Linked DNA regions of Homo sapiens. Changing the gene in region 2 together with the main gene of any one other region gives a genetic interaction. Each region holds a gene or a part of one and is shown on either strand. Other genes may lie near its edges. The genes, in order: EPYC, CSK and HRG.

The links.
Region 1: changes in CSK (region 2) and EPYC are lethal when combined (synthetic lethality), as found in Homo sapiens cells (one large-scale study listed by BioGRID).
Region 3: changes in CSK (region 2) and HRG are lethal when combined (synthetic lethality), as found in Homo sapiens cells (one large-scale study listed by BioGRID).

Annotation. Positions count from the first base shown.
Region 1 is NC_000012.12:91,002,742-91,006,493, forward strand, and holds the start of EPYC (epiphycan precursor), read right to left. Parts: upstream 2,232-3,752; 5' UTR 2,206-2,231; intron 1-2,205. UniProt on the Homo sapiens protein: May have a role in bone formation and also in establishing the ordered structure of cartilage through matrix organization.
Region 2 is NC_000015.10:74,792,026-74,795,677, reverse strand, and holds part of CSK (tyrosine-protein kinase CSK), read right to left. Parts: intron 2,633-3,652; exon of another isoform or gene 2,430-2,632; intron 1-2,429. UniProt on the Homo sapiens protein: Non-receptor tyrosine-protein kinase that plays an important role in the regulation of cell growth, differentiation, migration and immune response.
Region 3 is NC_000003.12:186,664,460-186,668,211, reverse strand, and holds the start of HRG (histidine-rich glycoprotein precursor), read right to left. Parts: upstream 2,199-3,752; 5' UTR 2,181-2,198; coding exon 1,998-2,180; intron 1-1,997. UniProt on the Homo sapiens protein: Plasma glycoprotein that binds a number of ligands such as heme, heparin, heparan sulfate, thrombospondin, plasminogen, and divalent metal ions. Binds heparin and heparin/glycosaminoglycans in a zinc-dependent manner.

The DNA.
Region 1 (3,752 bases), on a different chromosome or scaffold from region 2:
TAGGACCATTGCTGCCAGATGTTCAAATTAATTCACAAACCTGTCTCTAATTTTACAGTGGATATTTTAATTACAGTAAAATTTTATTTTATTTTATAGAGAAAAACAGAGCTTATTCACAAAAGCTTTTCATCATCTAATAATTTTACCATTTAATAAACATTAAGATCCTTCATCAACTCTGGGATATGAAGTTGAAGATGATAAGGATAATGATGATGACGGTGATGATGACTGCAACTGTCATACCATTTTATAGGTGAAGAAACTGAGGCAGAGTTGACTGGTAATGCAACTAGGATATCCACAAATAATTCCAATTTCAGTGATCCACAGTGTGGCTTAGGCATTGGGGTTTTAAAAATAATTTTAAAAATAGGACTCATAACTGTTTCTTGTACATTTAAGTCTAAGGCCTTCTTCAGAACAAAGTAACAAAGTTTTGTTTGTTTTTTCTGTTACTTCTTTGTAGCCTCTGGACATATAAATACATACATTGTTTAATATGTACGTTAGTATTTCATGCAATATTGTTCAAAATGCTCCTAATGAAATAGAATAGAAAAAAAATTTCCTTTAGTCCTCAGTATTTTATTTAATTCTTAATAGCTATCTAAGATTTGAACTCAGAACCAACAGGAATACATGTTTAAAAGGCACTATTTGGTAAGATTCCCTTGTATGCCTGTGGGATTATAGCCATCTTTGTTTTTTAATTCCTTAATAAGCACAATTCTTATTTTCCATTATAACATTATGCTTTTTGAGGATTCAATCAAGATCCTATAATTTAATTATTTTTTTAGTTCTGTATGTACTCATTTGAATACATTTTGGTTTAGAAAAAAAATCTTCACATTTAATTTGAAACATTTAAGTTAGTCTTACCAAAATGTTACCTAGTGATCCCTTATTGAGCAGGCAAAGTATTGTAAAATTCTGTATCAAGCATGTCTAATTTTAGAGGCTTTTACATTTGGACACACTTCTTGGGTTTACTTTAAGAACAGTACCTGTGGTGTTACTACCTATGCATACATATAAAAGGGAATTCATGATAAATATTACTTTTAAACTTGAATGCACTGGCAGACAAAATGACCTTCAGTTACTTGAAAGAAAGCCTTTATGAAGCAGGTTTAGGCAGAAGGATATGAAATTCCTCTGAGAATAAGAAGCAGTACAAGGAGCTCCTTCTTAGCTCTCCTATGCTTTCTTCAAATAAATTTCTTATTCACACAGGATAAACTAAGCCTCTATTTCAGTTGCCTTTGCAGAAGTCTTTGCAGGATTGCAGATTTGGAACTGTTCTAGGCAATTACCAACAAAGTCCTACTTAATAAAACAGTGGGTTTGCAAATCTTCCAGGAACCATTCTCCCATAATCAAGTTGGAAACATTAACAGAAGCCACTACCAACTTAAAAAAAATTTTTCCTTATATGTTTCTGGCAACTTCCATTATTCAAAGAAATTATACACTTGCTGGCCTTTTTTCTCACATCATACTATATTTGATTACATATAGCTACATCTCAGAATTTGCTTGCATTTTGCATCACTCCTAGAGCTATCAACTATAAGGCAGGCTGTGTGAATCTTAAAAATATATACAGCATCTATCTATGTTTAGTTAAAAAATTTATATTCCTTTCTTCAAGTAATTGTATTAGCATTTAATGTAGTTTCTTAATTAACACTTTAATTTTGTGTTCACTTTATACCATTTATTAATATTTTAAAATTTGTGTATTTAAAACTTTCAATATATAGCTCAAAAAAATTTTAAATGCATAATGTCATGTAATCATTACAATACTTTTAATCTCAGGAAATTTCACTATTTCCTCCCTTTTCACAAAATTTCAATTAATATCAATCAATAGTGCCTGTCTATACTGGCAAAGAATGTGGTCTGTGTCAGGAAACTTTACTTAAGGCATATATTGGAAACTACTCTAATTTTATTGGCATCTGTCATGACTACTGAGATTAACTATTTGCTGTATGTTATTAATTCCTAAGCTAATTCAAAATTTTGGATTTTCCAAGAATAATATAAATACAAAGTCAATAACAAAAATAAACCAAATCCATTGAATCAAAATTCACCAGATGACATTAAGGCAAGTTAAATTATTTTTTAAAGGTTGTTATAGTAGGGAAAGAACTCTGACCCAAGAAGAAAGCAAGTATAAAAACTTACCTTTGGCTCTGACCTGATGAAATGGCACAAAGTGACTGAGGATGCAGAGCTAGTGGTATTTGCCCCTGACCAATGGCTGTGAATTCTGGTCTGTGGGAGGTGGAATTTATAACACTCAACTTTCTGTTTGCAAAACCTAATATTGAGAAATACTTCTCAGTCTTTAAAAAACCTCAAATTATTTTATAGTCACCCAAACTAAGCAGTAGGATCCAAATCACATAGTATACAAAGTTCTTGAAATTATGTTAATGGAGTTATAATTGCCAAAGTATCACCTTAAAATTTTTAAATGGAAAAAGTTGGATTTAACATACCTCATCTGTAACAAACTCACCAATTAAGAAATGAAGTTCATGTATACAGTGATACTATAGATGGATATTTTAGTTCTAATAAGAAATAATTTTCCCAAAACTTGAAGTCTTGAATTGCTTTCTTCACTTTTCATTAATGTTAAGTGAAATTTGGTAAATGTTGCAGAAACCTTACCTGTTTAATATTGGGTAAGTAAAAAAAGATATCCCAATTATTTTGATTGCATGGAATGCTTTGATAGCAAAACAGGGAAAAATGAACCTTTTGCATAACTTTAAAAAAATTACATCCAGAAGTGATGCATAAATATGATCTGCGTGTTTTGGGGAGAAAAGGGGCTTTTTTTAAAAAAAGTTATTGTATCTATCATAGACAAATAAATCAAATTACACATTTTTTCCTTAGAATAGGAGCTTTATTTTAAGCTCTTGTTAACTTCCATGGTTTGTAAAATTGAACTTTAATACAAATATGAAGAGAAAAAATATGCTTTAAATTTCCATACCTCAATTTTACATTGTATAAGTCCTAGAGAAAGGTGAAAGTTGCATCTTGTATTCTGGTATGCTTTAGATAAATCTAGGAATTTGGTTCTCACTTATGCTTCAGGAATCTTTTCCTTCATGTCTGCAAGTGAATAGATGTATTGAATTTTGAAAGCGGTATTACTCCTGGGCCAAGTGATGGGAGAGAAGAAGGTTTGTCTTTAAGGTTCTCTCACTCCCCTTCCTGCCTCTGCTCCCATCTTCCCTGCCCTCAAAATGTCTTTGCCCATCTATTCAGGGCATTCTTATTTGTCATCCCCATCATCCAACCCTGTTTCCAAATGATTTGTTCTTAGTATGCATTGTTTTTCTCAAAAACAATTTTATTTGGAGCAGAAACAGTGATAATGGGTAATGTATGAAGTCTACCAAGACCTCTCAAAAAATAGAGAGGCCATCTTGGAGACAGGAACTTATTTCTGGCATCTGTGAAGTCTCACCCCACCATATAAAGGCCACTTTTAGAAGCAGTGCTGGAAAGATGCCTGAATCCAAGTTTCTAGGCTTGTCCTCTTTAGAAGCAAGGTCCACGTGGGGTGTCAGGTGATTTCATATATGATTGTTAATCACCTCAACACATTCTTAAGCAGAGTGCTTACCACTATTCACAGATGGGACTACTGAGACTCAGATGATAAATGATACAGCACCATGTGTGACACAAAAAAAGAGGAAATCAACTTG
Region 2 (3,652 bases):
AAAAAGCTACCCTAGCCAACCCCATTCCCTGAGAGCAGCAACCCACCCGTCTGCACACACATACTTTGTAATCCCAGCCCAGAGCCCCCTTGGACCTGTCTCAGGAAGCAGAGGGGCTGGAACTACTGTTTCCTTTCTACGGGTGAGGAAACTGAGGGTGAGAAAGGGCCAGTGGCATCTTCGTGGTCACAGTGTGTTAGAAGAGAAACTCCTCCATGAGCCTCTTTGCTGGGCTCTTTGATACAGTGGATGAGGTCTGGGGGCTAGGCTGACAGTCACAAATATTGCTACCTACCCCAGTGGAAGGAGACATTTTATTTTATTATTATTGTTATTATTGCGACGGAGTCTTGCTCTGTTGCCCAGGCTGGAGTGCAGTGGCGCGGGAGAAGACATTTTAGTGCAAAGTGCTGGGGGTGTGAAGTAGGCACGGACTGCAGAGCTCAGACAGGCTCCCTGGAGGAGGGAGCTCTGGGGCTGAGCCCTGAAGATTGCAGGGCTTACACAGGCAGAGGGCGGGCCAGGGAAGGCACCCCAGGTTGATGCAGCAGTCTGAGCAAAGGTGTCAGGCAGGGGACTGGCATAGTATGAGAAACTGGCCCAGGTGGAAGCCGATGGTGAGGGAAGCGGGAAGGCAGACCCTGCCCATCTGGGGCTCTAGGACCCCACACACTTCCAGAGTCCACCTTGAGCACCGCTGCTCAGGGGACACTGTAGGGGATGGTTTCAAGTGGGCCTGGCATAAACTCTGCCAGGCAGCAGGGGGACTTCCACTGCCAATGTGAGGAACCAGGGTTTGACTCCAAGGGCGATGGGGCCTCAGCAGGGGGGCATGTGATCATGGAGAGCAGAAGGAGCTGGGGAGGAGACGGCCAGGGAGAACCAACACTTCCAGGCCGCACACCTGGCTCTATAGTCAGGCCTGGGCTTAATACCTGGCTCTGTTGACTGTGCGACTTGGGGTGAGTGACTCAACCCTTCTAAGTCTTGCTTACCCTGAAGGGGAGGACAGGTATCTCCTGCAAGCTGGCTGAGGAGGGGCTGGAATGAAACCCTGAACTTGGAAATGTCTGGTGCGCCCCTGCCCCATCCCCTGGATGAAAGAGCTTCCGTTCCTCCCAGAATACAGGGCCCTTTCTATCCCCAGAGGCCAGGCCATCAATCCTGCTGTTTAGGCAGGGACACTGAGGCCCAAGGAGGATGAGCCTGAAACCTGCCTCCATCCACATGACTCAGTCACCACTAAGTACAGGAACCATCCCTTGCCCCTGCCTCCTGTGGACTGTAAGCTGTGAGGGTGGGGGTGGCGGGGACCCCTTGCCCCTGCCTCCTGTGGACTGTAAGCTGTGGGGGTGGGGGTGGCGGGGACCCCTTACCCCTGCCTCCTGTGGACTGTAAGCTGTGGGGGTGGGGGTGGCGGGGACCCCTTGCCCCTGCCTCCTGTGGACTGTAAGCTGTGAGGGTGGGGGTGGCGGGGACCCCTTGCCCCTGCCTCCTGTGGACTGTAAGCTGTGAGGGTGGGGGTGGTGAGGACCCCTTGCCCCTGCCTCCTGTGGACTGTAAGCTGTGGGGGTGGGGGTGGCGGGGAGGGAAGGAGGATTGTGAGCTCTTCTAACCCTCTTACCCCCATTTCACAGAAGCGGAAACTGAGGCTCAACTGGTTGAACAATTTGCCTGAAGTCACATAGCTAGTTAGGGGTGACAGAGCTTGAATTAGGGTCCCACTAGGGCTGGCTGGGCCCCCAACCTTTAGGTCCTTCTGAATAGGGGCCCTGCTAGCATTCCACATCCCCATGCCTCCCCCTTCCTCCCCAAACTCCCTGCCACCACAGGGGGGCGCGGAGGCTGCTGCGCTGTTAGTCACCCTTCCAGCTGTCAGTTTGCAAACACTCCCTTCCTGGCCTACAGCTACTGCCACCGCCGCCTCCCCACTGCCTTGATTATAATAATAAAAATAATAACAGGCCCTGTTTTCTGAGCACTTATTCTGTGCCAGGCCCTGTCCTTGGCACGTTATGGCTCATCACATCCTCTAACAACTCTGAGACAGAGAAGCTATTATTATCCCCATTTTGCAGATGAGAACCCCAAGTGAGGCCCACAGGGGCAAGGCGGGGGTCCCTAGGGCCACACCTTGAGTGAGCATTCTGTCCCCCTCAGGTGTCAAACTCCTGAGCTGCTGAGCCAGCCCTCCCCATAGCCCCGTGCCTCCCTGCCGGACAGGCCCCAGGAGTTGCCATGGGGACCACACTAGCCTAGGGGCAAGGGAGAGGAGGGAGGAGGGAGGAGGCAGAAGCAGCTATGAGGGGCACAGGGGCGGTGCTCAGGGAAGGGTAAGCCTAGGAGCGGTCGGGGTGGGCTGCCTCAAGGAGCTGGGCTCTGAAGGCCTCAGAGGGTCTGGAAACAGGGAAGAGGGCTAAACTCATCACCTTTACTCTGCTGGCTGTGACTCTAGAACCCAGCTTCCCCATCTGTGCAATGGACTGGTGATACTCCTTGGCTCTGGGGGCTGCTGTGAGGACTGGAGTTGAGCTCTCAGCACCAGAACAGTGCCTGCCTTGCCACAGACATCTTGCAAGTGGGAGCTGCTAACTCTCTTGGACGGCTCCTCCCTGGTGGGGTCATGAGACCCCTGAATGAATGAATAAATGAACAAACAAAAGGGGGAATCCAGCCTGGCTACATCACACTGAGGTCCCATAACCAATGGGACTATAGTTAACCCCAAAGGGACTATAGTTAACCCCAAAGCGATAGCAGCTGTCACCCCACCCCCACAGAGCTAGGGGACAAGGGGCTTGGGATGTGGCAGGACCAGTGCTTCACGCTGACTTCCTGCCCCAAACCCGGCTCCCAGTAGCCCTTGTGCTGGGGTCCCGGGAACAGGCTGGCATTGTGCCCAAGCACTGACGTCAGTGGCCGCAGACAAGATGGCTCAGTGGCTTCCCAGCTAGTGCCTAGGCCGGGGTCCCCTCCTTAAAACATCTCCAGAAGGTGAGACCCTCCCACTGCAGGTCAGAGGCTGACAGCCAGAGTGGCTGGGAGGAGCTACTGCAAACTTAGGCCTCTACAACCCAGCGGGGGTCAGGCACAGAGAGGGGGTCCTTCCTGGGGTTATTTAAACTTAAGAGTCGGGCTACTCTATGGAACAGTGCAGGAACATCGTCCTGGGTGTCAGATGCTCTGAGTCCTGTACCCAGCTCTGCCATCAACTTGCTGTGTGACCTTGGGAAAGTCACTTGACCTTTCTGGGACTTGTTGGCTTCTGGTACCTTAGCCAGACCTGTTTCCCATCTGCTGTTGCCAGGACACCTGTGCCCTGTCTCCCTCCCCGCCTTGCCATTCCCTTCACACTCTCTCCTCCTCCTTTACCGAGGGACTTCCACTCAACCTTGGGGGTGCAGCTGAGCAACTGCTTCTGGAGTACCCATGCCTTAAAAAAACACAGCAGGACAGTCCCTGCAGTGCTGTCTGTAGTAGCAGGAGATGATGGGGAGACAGCCTTTATGTCCATCAGTTGGGGGCTGGGTGGATAAATTACAAGATGTCCCTGAAAGGGGACAGCATAGCTCTAGCTGTGATGGGGCCAGGGGAGATCTCTAGATGCCGATACTGAACACTCCCCATGATAGAGTATGGAAAATGGCAAAAC
Region 3 (3,752 bases), on a different chromosome or scaffold from region 2:
GGCACATCAGGACCCCTCCCCATCCACCCGCTCTCTATGCTAGCTCTCAGAGGCAGCTCTGTGCTGATGCATCCTATGCCCTAACATGTGTTGATGAGCCTGGCATGGGACTAATGGTCACTGAATTACTGGTTGAATCCTAAACTCCTGCACACCTGTTCTCTGCAACCCACAGTGCCTCCCTCTGTGATACTTTCAGAAGGGTAAATTGTCCTCTGTAGTACTCCTTGTCTGGCCTCCCTAATTTCAGTTTTTCCATCAGAGGGAGAGTAGGTTATTTGGGGAGCTTAGAGGCAGGCTTCATGTCTCTCTATAATGTCTATCGGCTCCTCTAGTCCAGTTTAGGTAGGCGTGTAATCTAAGCGAAGACAGTAAGCTTGTTTCACCTCAAGACAAGCCCACAGGCTTGGCTCCTACCTGATGCCTGCTCCAGAGCCCACATGGAACTTCTGGAACCCACCTGCTTATATTCAATGGCTCCCTAACACCCTTCTTCCTGATTCCATACCCACCTAGAAGTGGTGGTGCCAGGAATTCACCAGGAACACATTTACCCAGACCTGTTCAAATCCTACCCATGCATCATTACACAGCAGAAGCCTCCTCCCATCCAGTCTTACTAGATCTCCCCTCATTAAATTGCTCCAGTACATTTACCACTCCTTTGGTCACTTGGCTATTGTTGGGGCTCAGAACATGGTATCTCAAAGTATGGTACTTTTGGCGTGCTGAGTCCTTTGAACTGAAGAAAATGGGAAGGGCCTCAGAAGCCAGATCTGTCTGACCTTCTGCCCTTTGTTCTCCTACTCTGCTTTCTCCCCCAAGGCAAGCCATAGAAACTAAAATTTCTCTTCTCCAGGACAGTCACAGATGGTAGAATCCCTCTCCCCGAAAGCATCCATAAATCCTAAAATATGAATCTAACCTTCCCCCTGTGTCTTTCTTTGTAGGAGCTGGCCATAAAGACATTCTCTGACCTACTCTGTTTGATAGTAGGTCCTCAGATCCGCATTCCAAAGGGATCCTGTCCCATACTTGGGAGCAAGAAATGCCACACAGAGAGGCCATGAAGAACTCAAACAGAGAGGCCTTGCTGGGTCCTTCTTTCAGTCTATGACTCTTAGATTACAGCCTTTTGTCCCATCACACTTCTGCATTCTGCACAGCCTTTGTGAATTCTAAGTATGCAAGTGGCCAGTTTCTTTGGATATCTGAGTCTTCATTTATGAAGACTCCAGTGTCAGGTAAACCTTGGATTAAATAAATTTGTATGTTTTCTTCTTCTTCTTTTTTTTTTTTGAGATGGAGTCTAGCTTTGTTGCCCAGGCTGGAGTGCAGTGGCATGATCTCGACTCACTGCAACCTCTGCCTCCCGAGTTCAAGCGATTCTTCTGCCTCAACCCCCTGAGTAGCTGGGATTACAGGCGTGCACCACCATGCCCAGCTAGTTTTTGTATTTTTAGTAGAGACAGGGTTTCACCATGTTGGCCAGGCTGGTCTTGAACTCCTGACCTCATGATCCGTCCGCCTTGGCCTCCCAAAGTGCTGGGATTACAGGCGTGAGCCACCGCGCCTGGCCTTGTCTACCAGTTTTATTTCAGGCTCAGTTAGGAGCCTTAGGAGGGTTGAGAAAACTTTTCCTTCTCTCTAGTTTATCCTAGTAACTTACACTGTTTGCCTGTATGTGCCAGTGTATTATTATTTCCTGGAGGCCAAGGCCCATAGCTTATTCTAATGTTTCTCTGGCAGTCCTTAGCATGTAACTGGGCTCAGCATAAATGCTTATATGTACCCACAAATCGAATCATAGTTGCGGGTACACTAATAACAAATATTAGTTTGAAGGAAAAAAGAACAATTTAGAGCAGCCGCAGAAGCCAAACAAAAAACTCTGACCAAAGCCATTCATTGTGCAAAGCAGTAAGCCTAGGGGGTAGAGTCACATTTGCCCCCGTGAGTAATCTCCCAACTCAGCTCTGCCATTGGCAATTCCTCACCACTCTGTCCAAGTGGGCATCAGCAATCCGCAGCAATTGGAAAAGGTAGCCATCCCGTCGCCTTTTATTGATCAGGTCTAGAGCTTTCTCAGCCTCCGGCTCAACAGCACTGCAGTCAGTGGGACTCACGGCACACGAATACTGCAATGTGATCAAAAGCAGTGCTGCAATGAGTGCCTTCATTTTGTTAAACCATCCCTTGCTATGATCTGCCACTGCAGAGAATTTTATACAGACTTTCTGAAACACACGCAATTGATTAAACAAAACCTTGATACATTTTTGTTGTGTAACTGAGGGTGTTCACCTTGACCCTGGGTTCAAATAACCATCAACAAGCTGTAAATGATTAGTGGGTCCTGGGGGCAGAAAGCTGAGAAATGCTGATGAGTGGGTGGAACTGTGATCTGCACAAATCTGGATTTTTCTAGTAGATAGCAGATCTAAAGTACGTCTTTGAATATAAGCAGTGCCTATGTTGGTGTAGGGGGTGGGGCTAGGGGTAATTTTCCTCCATCTGCCTGCCTGTCTCAGCTGGAAATCTCCATCATCAGTCAGTGGACTGATGGATCATGGCACTAAAACTCCTCAGTAGAAGGCAGCTGCATTATCTAAGCGGGGGAACATGTTAAACAGGTACCATTATAAAAGGAATGACTTCAGGTAAAATAGAACAATGAAGAGGCTGTCGTTTTGAAGTCAAATCTGAATTTCTCACCTGGCTCTATTACTTTCTTACTGTGTAATGCTGGGTAAGCAACAAAACTTCTCTGATAGTTCCCTCATTTACGAAATATGGATTGATACCTCTTGGCAGGCTTGTGTGATAATTAAATAAGAAATCAGGCTGGGTGCGGTGGCTCATGCCTGTAATCCCAGCACTTTGGGAGGCCAAGGCAGGCTGATCACAAGGTCAGGAGATTGAGACCAGCCTGGCCAACATGGTGAAACCCTGTCTCTACTAAAAATACAAAAAATTAGCTGGGCATGGTGGCACATGCCTGTAATCGCCGCTACTTGGGAGGCTGAGGCAGGAGAATCACTTGAACCCGGGAGGCGGAGATTGCAGTGAGCTGAGATCGCGCCACTGCACTCCAGCTCGGGCGACAGTGTGAGATTCCATCTAAAAAAGAAAGAAAGAAAAAAAGAAAGCAACCAGTATAATTCTTGGCATAGAGTAGATGCTGAATAAGTGATGCTATTTATTATTAGTGTGCCTGCAAAGAAGTTGGGGACACCTCATGCCACCCCAATTCCCTGCAAAAAGAATTGATTCACGTGGAAGAGGATGGTGGTGAGAGTAAGAGTCAAATAGTTGGATGCCCATCCCACTGTTAGAAGGGATCAGCAGGGGGGGACTGGGCTATGATACAGCTGACCCCCTACCTTCACACTTCAGAAGAAACCCGTATACCTATATGCAACCCTCAGACCAGCAGAGCCAGCAGCATCAGAAGGGACCAGAGGGAATCAGCCTAGGTTCCGTCCTCACTGCCAAGAAACAGCCAGTTAGGCAGCATCTCCATTCCTCCCTGTTCTATCCGCAGTGAGTGTCTGTGAGAGTCTGCAGTCATGTCTCTCAGACTCGGCTTCATGTTAGAATCACCCCAGGAGCTTTAAAAAGTCCTGATGTCAAGGACTCCTCCAGGACAATTTAATCAGAATCTCTGGGAGTGGACTTTGGTATTGGTAGTTTTTAAACTCCTAGGTAATCCAGTGTGTGCAGTCAAGGTTGAGAATTACTGGGATTCTAGA